Linked DNA regions of Homo sapiens: region 2 is linked to region 1. The links come from fine-mapping of genetic effects on gene expression. A gene starts in region 1. The other region holds a variant in brackets. All regions are shown on one strand. Distances are between the middles of the regions. Region 1 holds the start of RPS19 (ribosomal protein S19). Region 2 overlaps LOC124904790.

Evidence for each region.
Region 2: its variant is fine-mapped to the expression of RPS19 in fibroblasts (GTEx, PIP 0.91).

Annotation. Positions count from the first base shown.
Region 1 is chr19:41,857,346-41,862,715 of GRCh38, forward strand. RPS19 (ribosomal protein S19) reads left to right here and starts at 2,910. Exons shown (of 6, transcript NM_001022.4): 1 at 2,910-2,944; 2 at 3,430-3,500; 3 at 3,767-3,867. The coding sequence starts at 3,430. RefSeq lists an enhancer at 2,613-3,368 and silencers at 2,922-3,051, 3,112-3,231.
Region 2 is chr19:41,131,255-41,136,624 of GRCh38, forward strand. It overlaps LOC124904790, which reads right to left. Exons shown (of 3, transcript XM_047439802.1): 3 at 4,380-5,370. It also overlaps the pseudogene CYP2T3P. Among named protein-coding and RNA genes, the nearest start is that of CYP2F1, 20 kb to the left of the region's middle. The variant C/T (reference allele first, on the strand shown) is at 2,361.

The sequences.
Region 1 (5,370 bases):
TGGATACGTGTCATTACACATTTGCCAAAACTTGCAGAACATACAACAAGAGTGAACACTGATGTAAACTGCGGACTTTGGGTGATAATATTGTGTTCCTTGATTGTAGCAAAGGTACCACTCTGGTGTGGAATGTTGATAGAAAGGGAGGCCATCCCTGTGTGTCAGCATGGGGACTATGGGAATTCTGTACTTATACACTAAATTTACAGGCATGAGCCTGTAATCCCAGCACTCTGGGAGACCAAGGCGGGTGGATCACAAGGTCAGGAGATCAAGACCATCCTGGCTAACACGATGAAACCCCGTCTCTACTAAAAATACAAAAAATTACCCAGGCGTGGTGGCGGGAAACTGTAGTACCAGCTACTCGACAGGCTGAGGTAGGAGAATGGTGTGAACCCGGGAGGTGGAGCTTGCATGAGCAGAGATCACACCACTGCACTCCAGCCTGGGCGACAGAGCGAGACTCCGTCTCAAAAAAAAAAAAAGTTTATTGCAAAAGCTTGAGTATCTTCAGTTGTGGCTTCAAATCCGGGCTCAGGCTTTAACCTTATGTGACCCTGGACAAATGACTTGACTCTAAGGCTCAGTTGACTGGTCTATAACCACCTCACAGAGTTGTCAATTATGAACCTGTAAAAACTAACATGTACAAAAATTAACACCAGGGACACAGTGCTGAGAAACTGTGTTCTCTAAAATCACAGACTGCCAGAATTTTTAAAAATCTTTAAAATCATAACAATAGTGAAAATGGGACATCTCATTCTTACCTGGAAAGTCTAAGTCACTTTGACACAGAGAAGCAGTCATGATCTCAGAGAAGCGGTTTTTAGAGACAACATTGTACATTTATCTAAACTTTCTAATGTCCAAGGAAGCAGAATCCTGGGTCTGCTCCTCGCCCAGGCATGATGTTAGCTCCGTTGCATAAATACATGCCTGCTTTGCCTTATGTCCATCAAAACTCTGCTTTATATAAATTTTACCTAAGCTTCACTCTTCCCAAAATCCTATATTCACCCTGTCTCTTCCTTTGGTCAGGCACTCCAGAGTTCCTCTGGAGAGCTTTAAAAAAAAAAATTAAATTCAATGAAATGACTTAAATGAATTAAGTGTAAATGATTCAGAACTGGTATTAGAAATTATTAAAAGTGGGGGCCAGGCACGGTGGCTCACACCTGTAATCCCAGCATTTTGGGAGGCCAACGCAGGTGGATCACCTGAGGTCAGGAGTTCGAGACCAGCCTGGCCAACGTGGTGAAAACCCGTCTCTATAAAAATACAAAAATTAGCCAGGTGTGGTGGCAGGCACCTGTAATCCCAGCTACCTGGGAGCCTGAGGCCGGAGAATCGCTTGAACCCGGGAGGTGGAGGTTGCAGTGAACCAAGATCACATCATTGCACTCCCGCCTGGGCGACAAAGCGAGACTCCAACTCAAAAAAAATTAAATAATAATTACTTAAATTATAAAAAGTGAATATAAATTACCCAAGTACCTGGAGATTTCCAGTTAGACATGCATATATTACCCACTTTGAATACATATGGAAATATGTATGTGTTGGTTCTGGAAAAACAATTGAGATAATGAAAATATTTTCTCAAGTTTTAGAAACAGTATGAGATAGGTTTCAACAACATTCTACATGAATGTAAAACCTTGATTTAAATATATGATCTTATGCTAGAAGCATGGTTGGTTTTAATTTTTCTAACAGATACGAGTCTTGGCTTATTAATAATTAACACATTTTGCAGCCACAGTATCAGTGTGGGGTAAAATTCTAATATTTGCTCTTATGTTTTAAATTCTCAGTCTTTCCAACATAAGAAAATAGCTACACACATTTCAGTGTTTCCTTTTTGCAACAAGTTAACATAATTTTATTGGACCACGTTATTTAGTTGTTGGGCCTTGTAAGGATTAAATGAGATCATGCATGTAACACTACAGTAACAGCCACATGATAAATGTCCAAATAATATTTACCTGTGCCTGGCACAGAGCAGGCACTCAAAAAATATTTTTTAGAGCATGTGACGCGCCATGAACCAGAGGAGCCACTTTAAATGGACAAACGGGGATCTCATTTTTTTTTTTTTTTTTTAATGGTGAGACAAGCCCTGAGAAGGCAAATGGACTGCCTAAAGCTACACAGGTCAGCGGGGCAGGTAAATCTAAATTGGCAAAGTAAGGGCTGAGCGAACAGACTCCGACACTAGAAGGCAGAGCTGAACTAACTTCTGCTAAGGTCCCGCCTCTGCCGCTTTGTCCCGCCCTTATCTTCTCCCCTCCTCCAGCGCCTCATTCCCTTTTCGCTCGCCCCGGCCGTGCTGAAGCAACTTCCGCCCTGAGAAGGGTGGGGCTTCCGTCTCCCGCTCTCGCGACTCCTGGCGGTGAAGGACGGAAGATGATAGCCACATTTCTTCCTCGCCCTTCCCCTAGGTTCCCTGTCACAGTTCCGCCCTTACTACTCCCACTTCCGGCCAGGGAACAGCCACTTCCACCCGGAAAAGGGGTTGTTCCGCCGTGGGGCGCCAGCTGTGGCCCACCCATCCTGCCCCGTACTTTCGCCATCATAGTATTCTCCACCACTGTTCCTTCCAGCCACGAACGACGCAAACGAAGCCAAGTTCCCCCAGCTCCGAACAGGAGCTCTCTATCCTCTCTCTATTACACTCCGGGAGAAGGAAACGCGGGAGGAAACCCAGGCCTCCACGCGCGACCCCTTGGCCCTCCCCTTTACCTCTCCACCCCTCACTAGACACCCTCCCCTCTAGGCGGGGACGAACTTTCGCCCTGAGAGAGGCGGAGCCTCAGCGTCTACCCTCGCTCTCGCGAGCTTTCGGAACTCTCGCGAGACCCTACGCCCGACTTGTGCGCCCGGGAAACCCCGTCGTTCCCTTTCCCCTGGCTGGCAGCGCGGAGGCCGCACGGTAAGCGGGGGCTCCGAGCTGGACCGGGCGCGAGGCGGCAGGGCCGGACGCCGAAGCCTCAGAGCGCGTGCCTGAGGGCCCCGAGGCGCCCGGCGCGGGCCCGTCCCGCCCCCTAGAGCCGCGGCCACGTGCGAGCGGCAGGCCCGGACATGCCCGGTCAGCGCCGTCCGGGAACCGAGCGTGGGCCCCGGGGGGCAGCGGCGGGGTGCGTGGGGCGTCCGGAGTCCCGGGGCTGGGGAGTGGGGTCGCGCAGGATCCTCACACGCAGGGGCCGGGCTCTGTTAGTGCGATCCAGAGAGGCCGTGGGCGTCGGTGAGCTCCTTCAGACCCGCAGGAGCCGGAGCCCGGCGTTGAAGGGGCCGTGGGAAGTAACGGGGGGTACCACGGTTTAGGATGCGCTGGAGCGAAAGGATTGGGGTGGGGTCCGTGCTCTTGGCAGTCGTCTCTGCCAGGCCTGTGTTCACATGCTTGACTTTCTCCCTCAGATGCCTGGAGTTACTGTAAAAGACGTGAACCAGCAGGAGTTCGTCAGAGCTCTGGCAGCCTTCCTCAAAAAGTGAGTTTGGGGACTGAGGTTCAAAACGGGTGGAGGCTGTCGCCTTGGCCTGCCCATCTGAGCCCCAGTGTTTGCCGGTCCCTGGCAGGCGAGGCTTGTTTGGGGCCTCCGTGGCTCCTTTCAGCGTGAGGCCTGGCTTGTGTTCCGGTTCCAGCCTCTCTTTGTACTCTGGGCACAGCATAGTTGTGTTGAGGGGAGGGCATTTGGGATATGGGGTAGTTTGTGGAGATGACTGAATCGTGCTTTTCCCACTGTTTTGGTCTTAGGTCCGGGAAGCTGAAAGTCCCCGAATGGGTGGATACCGTCAAGCTGGCCAAGCACAAAGAGCTTGCTCCCTACGATGAGAACTGGTTCTACACGCGAGCTGGTGAGGAACTTAGGTCTTTGGCTGGAGAGTGGGGAGCTGGGTGACCCCTGGCACAAACCATACTTCCCTGTCTCCTCTGAGCTCTTTCCCGCCCCAAGAGGGAGAGAAACCCTTGGTTGTGTCACCACTTGCTTTGTGTGATGTGACATTCGATAACTTGGTACTCCAAGTTTTTATGACATTCTAAGAGCTTTGTGAGAGGAGGACCTGTGGCTTTGAGCCTCAGGGGAAACCAGAGACAGATGAATGTTCATATTTTGCTTACAGGTGGTTTAATCCTTTCTATATACACGGAGGCAGACTCCCTGGGTTTGGATCCATCTTTTACATCTGGCTGTGTGTCCTCTGGCAAGTTGGTTAACCTGCCTGTGCACTCTCTCATCCCCAAAATGGGACTAATTATTGTACCAGTACTAGAGTATTGCAAGGATTGAATGAATTTAAAGCAGAGTGTTTAGAACGTGTCTGTTGCACAGTAGTTATTCAGGAAAAAGCCAGTTGTCTTTACTATTGCTCAGATCATCAAGTTAGCCTTCTCCATATCTCTAACAGGCTGTTTCTAACTAAATGGTTGGAGATCTGGCCAGGTCAGTCCCTGCTTTAAATCTTGACTTCTGATCTTATGGACACCCTGCAACCTCGTGCCAGCCCCGTCTCTTTTCAATCTTCCAATAATAATTTATGTACAGTCCCTGACTAGTGTTAGTTCTCACGTGTCTTAATATTTCAGTACTCACTAAATCTTCACTTTCAGGAAGATGTAACAGGGTGGGCGGTGGCAGTGCCGTGTTATGTCAAGGTGACAGCCTTAGCACCGACCTTCACTAAGGGGCCTCGGCCTCTCCAATCTTAAACCTTCTCTCTCTGTGAAGTGGGGACTCCATCCTGACCACAACTTGTCTCCAGATAAGAAGTAGGTGGGAAGCAGGGTTTGGAAATCGGCAAAACTCCTCCATGACCCGGAAAAGAGTTGGCCTTGGTACAGGTTGCTTGGCCCTTCAGAATATGAAGCATTTTGTAGATTTGTGGTACACTTGTGCCTCAAATGTCTATTGGGGCCCACTCTTTCAGGCCATGGAGTGAGCACAGAGGACCAGCATAACTCAGCCGCGGCCTCTGAGGACTGAAAGATGAACTTGCTGAGGTGGGTCGGGTTGCTGGCATACCACCTACCCACCGTTTGTTTTAGACAGAAAATGGGGCGGATGAAGAGAAGCTGACTTCCCTGGGCGCACAGCAGTGACAAGCCCTGGAAGTTACATATCTCCTCCACCTGTCCCCCCATCTTGCTTTGGCAGTGCCTCAAGGGTCAGTTGGTCAGAGCAGCTTTGGATCTGGGATTAGCCTTTCTCATTTGCTGGGGTGAAGACACGTTCTGCACATACCAAATACCTCCAAAGTAGGACTGTATGTGTCTTGTACATTTTTTTTTTTTTTTTTAACATGGGGAGGGATTAACAAGAGATGGCATTAAGACCTTGGATAATAAACCTAGTTGCATCT
Region 2 (5,370 bases), 730 kb before region 1:
TCAAGCAGAGTGGAACTGGCCCCTCAGCCATCAGTGGAGGTGGCCTGAGAGGCTCTACCCTAAACGGGGTCTCCCCAAGGCGATGCAGAAACTGGGACATGCTCTGCTGAGCATGGGGCTTACTGGAGTGAGGCTTATAGGCAGTCCCCACATGGGGATTAAGGTGTCAGCTCTTTAATCCCCTCACTGTTCCCATCACAGGCTGACCAGAGTCGGCCCCAGGGCCCAGCCAGGGACACAGAGGTTGGGGGAGAGAGGGAGACACAGAGAGACTCAGAGGTCCTGAGAAAGACAGGCAGAGAGAGATGATGCAGAAAAACACCTGGAGACACTGAAAAGAGATGGAGAGGAAAAGGAAGAGACAGATAACGCAGGGATGGCAGAGAAATCCTGGAAAACAGAGACCGGGAGGAGAAAGACAGCCACTGAGAAAAGGGAAAGACAGCGATGTCCAGAGAGAGGAAAGACAAAGATAAATAAAGAGAACAGAAATGAAGAGAGATAGAGAGACCTGAGAGAAAAAGAAAAAGGGAGGAAAAGAAAGAGAGAAACAGAGAAATCCAGTCTAATTACAAAGAGATAGAAACACCAAGGCGGGAGGATCACTTGAGCCCAGGAGTTTGAGACCAGCCTGGGCAACATAACGAGACCTGGTCTCTATAAATATTTTAAAAATTAGCTAGGCATGGTGGCACGCACCTCTAGTCCCAGCTACTTGGGAGGCTCAGGTGGGAGGATCACTTGAGCCCAGGCAGTCATGGCTGCAGTGAGCTGTGATGGTGCCACTGCACTCCAGCCTGGGCAACAGAACAAGACAGATGGAAGGGAAGGGAAGAGAAGAGAGAAGAAGAAAGGGAAAAGAGGGGAGGGGAGGGAAGAAAGAGGCTGGGCACGGTGGCTCACGACTGTGATCCTAGCACTTTAGGAGGCTGAGGCAGGAGGATTGCTTGAGACCAAGAGTTGAAGACCAACCTGGCCAACTTAACAAGACCCCATCTCTATAAAAAAACAAAGAGAGGTAGGGAGGAAGAAAAATTGGGCATTCATTCAACAAACATTTACTAAGTGCCTACTGCTGTGCTGAGCGCTATTTTAAGTGCTGGGATACAGAAGCAAACAAGACAAAATCCTTGCTCTGGAAGAGCTGACATTCCAGAGGACAGCCCACCCGAGCAAAATGGAGGAAGAGTCAGGAGCTGGGGAGAAACCAGAGGCCATAATAAAGAGGATCCATTAAAGCCTGTCACAGAGGGTGGGGTAGGGCTGGGGGAGGATGCAGCTTACTGTGCCCCACCACACTCCCGCTGTCAGTGGAGTCAGCAGCTCTGAGCAGGGGCCCTGCCAGACAACCCATGTCAGTCACCAGGTTCCAGAAAGGCTGACAGGTAGGAAGACCCAGGACAGGGCAGGACAGAATATGGAGGTACAAGGGGGTCAACATGCAGAAAGGCACCCTGAAGAAATAAGGAGAGGCACAGAAGTGCCAGGCTGAGACAAAGGGAAGCACAGACTGGGGGAGATACAGGGAGAGGAAGACACAGACATACTGAAAAGAGAGACAGAAAACAGACACAAACAGAGGCAGAGACTGAGAGAAAGGAGAGAGAGATGGGAAAAGATGGAAAGAGGAGAGAGAGAGAGATGAACACAGAAACATAGAGACTGAGCGTGAGGGAGGCTGGGCACGCTGGTTCATGCCTATACTCCCAGCACTTTGGGAGACCAAGGCAGAAAGATTGCTTGAGCCCAGGAGTTGGAGACCAGCCTGGGAAACACAGTGAGACCCTGTCTCTTCAAAAAATACAAAAATTGGCAGGATGTGGTGGTGTGTACCTGTGGTCCCAGCTACTCGGGAGGCTGAGGTGGGAGGATTGTTTGATCCCAGGTTGAGGCTGCAGTGAGCCATGATCATACCACTGCACTCCAGCCTGGGGGACAGAAGCCAGACTCTGTCTCAAAAAAAGAAAGAAAAGAAAAGAAGGAAGGAAAAGAAAGAAAAGAGAGAGAGAGCAAGTGAGACTGAGAGATGAAACAAAGAGACACAGAGAGACCCTCCCAGAGACAATGCCAGTCCTAGGCTCTGCACAGTCCCCCCCCCCCCGCCCACTGGCTCGCCAGGTCTGGGCCCTGTGCCAGGCACTTGGAGGAAGGCTGGATTTGGCCAAGCAGGGGCAGGCAGGAGGGTGGACCACATTCCTGAACAGTCTGTTCCAAATACAGCCCCAACCTCACTCACTGCTGCCACCACCGCAACCCTGGCCCATCCAGGCCTGAGTCTGCCCCCTCTAGCCCATGCCCTAGGATTGGGGGTAGTGGGGGATAGATGAGAGAATAAGGGATAAGTTTGTCTGCCATCATGG[C/T]CTGGCCTCAGACAAGGACTTGGGGGACTGGATACCAGGGGGTTCAGCAGCATGGGCACAGAACATTTGGGGGCATCTGGGAGCCAATGCCTTGGGAATAGAGATGGTAGATTCAGGGCAGGACATAATATGGAAGTACAAGGGGGTCAACATGCAGAAAGACACCCTGAAGAAATAGAGGCACAGAAGTGCCAGGCTGATGGACACCCAGAAGCCAGGGAAATTGAAGGCAGATCTGGGGAACAAGCGTAGCACACAGGGTCCCAAGAGCAATGGAAGTGACAAGGGCTCAGGTGTGAGCTCCTAGGAATCACAGGCACAGAGCACAGGAGTGCCAGGGGTGTCTTTAGAAGTGTATTTGAGCCAGGAGCAGTGGCTCACACCTGTAATCCCAGCACTTTGGGAGGCCGAGGCAGGCGGATCACCTGAAGTCATGAGTTCAAAATCTGCCTGGCCAACATGGTGAAACTCCGTCTCTACTAAAAATACAAAAATTAGCAGGGCCTGGTGGTGCACGCCTGTAATCGCAGCCACTTGGGAGGCTGAGGCAGGAGAATCTTGAACCTGGTAGGCGGAGGTTGCAGTGAGCCGAGATCGCACCACTGCACTCCAGCCTGGGCGACAAGAGCGAAACTCTGAAAAAAAAAAGAAGGAGAAGAAGGAGAAGAAGAAGGAAGAAGAAGAAGAAGAAGTGTATTTGAGAGTCGGTGTGTATTTAGGAATCAGAGGTACAGGGTACAGCGTTCAGGGGGCCCAGAGATGGCCCGGAGATTGAGGAATACACACCTACAGGCCAAATAAATTGGACTCAAAGGTGCTAGGGGCTCAGGAGGGTGCACCTGTTGGCCAGGTGTGTTGACATGAAAATGCTGGTGTACGAAAGATGTTAAGTGGGGCAGGCTGAGGCAGGCACAAAAAAAAAAGCCAGGAGGAGCCAGGGCACAGTTCCACCAGGGCTGGGGGTGGGCTGGAGACGTCGGGCTGGGGAATCCATGGAATGAGCAGCCCTGAGATGCCCACTCCTCCCACATCGGGTCTCTGCCCCTGCTCCACCCAAGACCCCTTGGAAATCAAATAGAGGTGCAGGCGTGGAGAATTGCAGGCATGATGATCGCGGGTATCGCTGCGCTGCTGTTGTGGCTTCTGGTGCTGGTGCCGGCGTGGTGGGGGTAGGGTGGGTGCCGCGCTCAGATGCGGGGGTCCCTACCTCCCCGGCCCAGGCTGCTCCCATTGCTGGGGAACTTGCAGCTGCAGTCCGGAGGCCTGGACCGCGCGCTCCATTCCCGACAGGAATGGGGGAACGGAATTCTGGATTCGTGGAGGTGGGGCTGGGGACTAGAACTCCTCCTGAACGAAGACAGCTGAGGGCTTGTACTCTATGATCTTGAGGAAGGACAGGAAGGATGAGTGCTCCGGACTGCTGAGTACTAGGAAAGGAGAATAGGGAGTGGAGAGCCTGGGGCCGGGACACTGGGTCGTAAGGAAGGAGCCCAGAGCAGGAAATCAGGTTGTGGGAAGAGGGGAGCAGGGGGTCTGTTCTCCTGGTTCAGGGTGGGGAGGTACTGAGGGCCCAGGAGACACTCTGAGGGTACAGGAGGTTGGGAATCTGGACTTCTAGGTCCCAAGGGAAGAAGGAAGTGGGGGCCTGGACTCCCGCATCTCAGGGAGGAAGGAGCTGGGGATCTGAATTCCTGGACCTGAGGAATGAGGGTCTGAGACGAGGACTCCTGGGTCTGAAGGAAGAGGGAGCTGGGGGCAATGGCTCCGATGAGGAACCCTATGGGCACCCGCTGAGCACCGGCTACCCGTAGCTCTCCGGCCGCTGGGGCCGGGTGTTCACAGTGCGGCTGGGCCCGCGCCCTGCGGTGGTGCTGTGCGGCTACGCAGCGCTGCGGGACGCGTTAGTGCTACAGGCGGATGCGGTCTCCGGCCGCGGGTCCATGGCAGTCTTCGAACGCTTCACACGCGGAAACAGTGAGGCCCCGGCGCTGGACTTGCCGGTCCGGACGCTCCAGGCTGGGCGGGTAAATGGTAGAGGCGGGCAAATGGGGGCGGGGCCTAATAGAGACTCCAGCTAATGAGGTGCAAACGGCCGAGAGAGGGCGGGGCGGCGCTAAAGCGTAAGGTTAGAATGGAGGTTCATCCTGCAGCCAACAGGAGAAAAGAGCCTAAGATTCAAAGTCCCAGAGCCAGCCTAGGTCAGGGATGGAGCCCAGCAAAGGCGGGGCCAATGTGTGGATAGGGCACTTGGAGGTCTGGTAAGGCAGCAAAACGAACGAAGCCGGCCGCAGGAGTCGGAGGCCCCGAAAGGGATGTAGCCAGTGACCCGGCGCTTCCTGGATGGGGCGTGGCCGGTTCCCGGGCCCGCCTCCTTTCCCGTCCCCACCACAGGAATCTTGTTTTCTAACCGGCCGTGCTGGTGGACACTGCGCAATTTTGCACTTGGAGCGCCGAAGAAGTTCGGGTTGGATACGCGGACCATCGAGGCGCGTGTCCTGGATGAGGCGGCTTGTCTGCTAGACGAATTTCAAGCCACCATTGCTTCGGCCTGGCCGGGAGAGCGGAAGGGCCTGGTGTGGGAGAGTCCCTTGCACTGCCAAGACGGGGCCACTGGAAGGTATTTGGGTGGAAGAAAGCCAGTAAGCCCATGGGGCTGGCTGGGGGCAGGACCACGCGTTATGACCACCGTCCTGTTCCTACCCCCAGGAGCCCCGTTTGACCCCGTGCGGCTACTGGGTAATGCTGTATCCAGTGTTACCTGTTCTTGTCTTCGGGAACCGCTATGGCTACGGGGACCCGGAGTTCCTGAGGTCCTGAACCTCCTAAGTGACAACTTCCGCATCATGAGTTCCAAATGGGGCGAGGTGAGAGGGCCGGCCACAATCTCTCCCTTGTGCGTCCAGCCTTATGCCAAATCCCGAGTACACAGACGTACCTACAATGGGACAGTTAGATTCTTGGAAGAGTTCTAGAACCTCCAATATCAAAGTCCCTGTAGGGAAACTAAGGC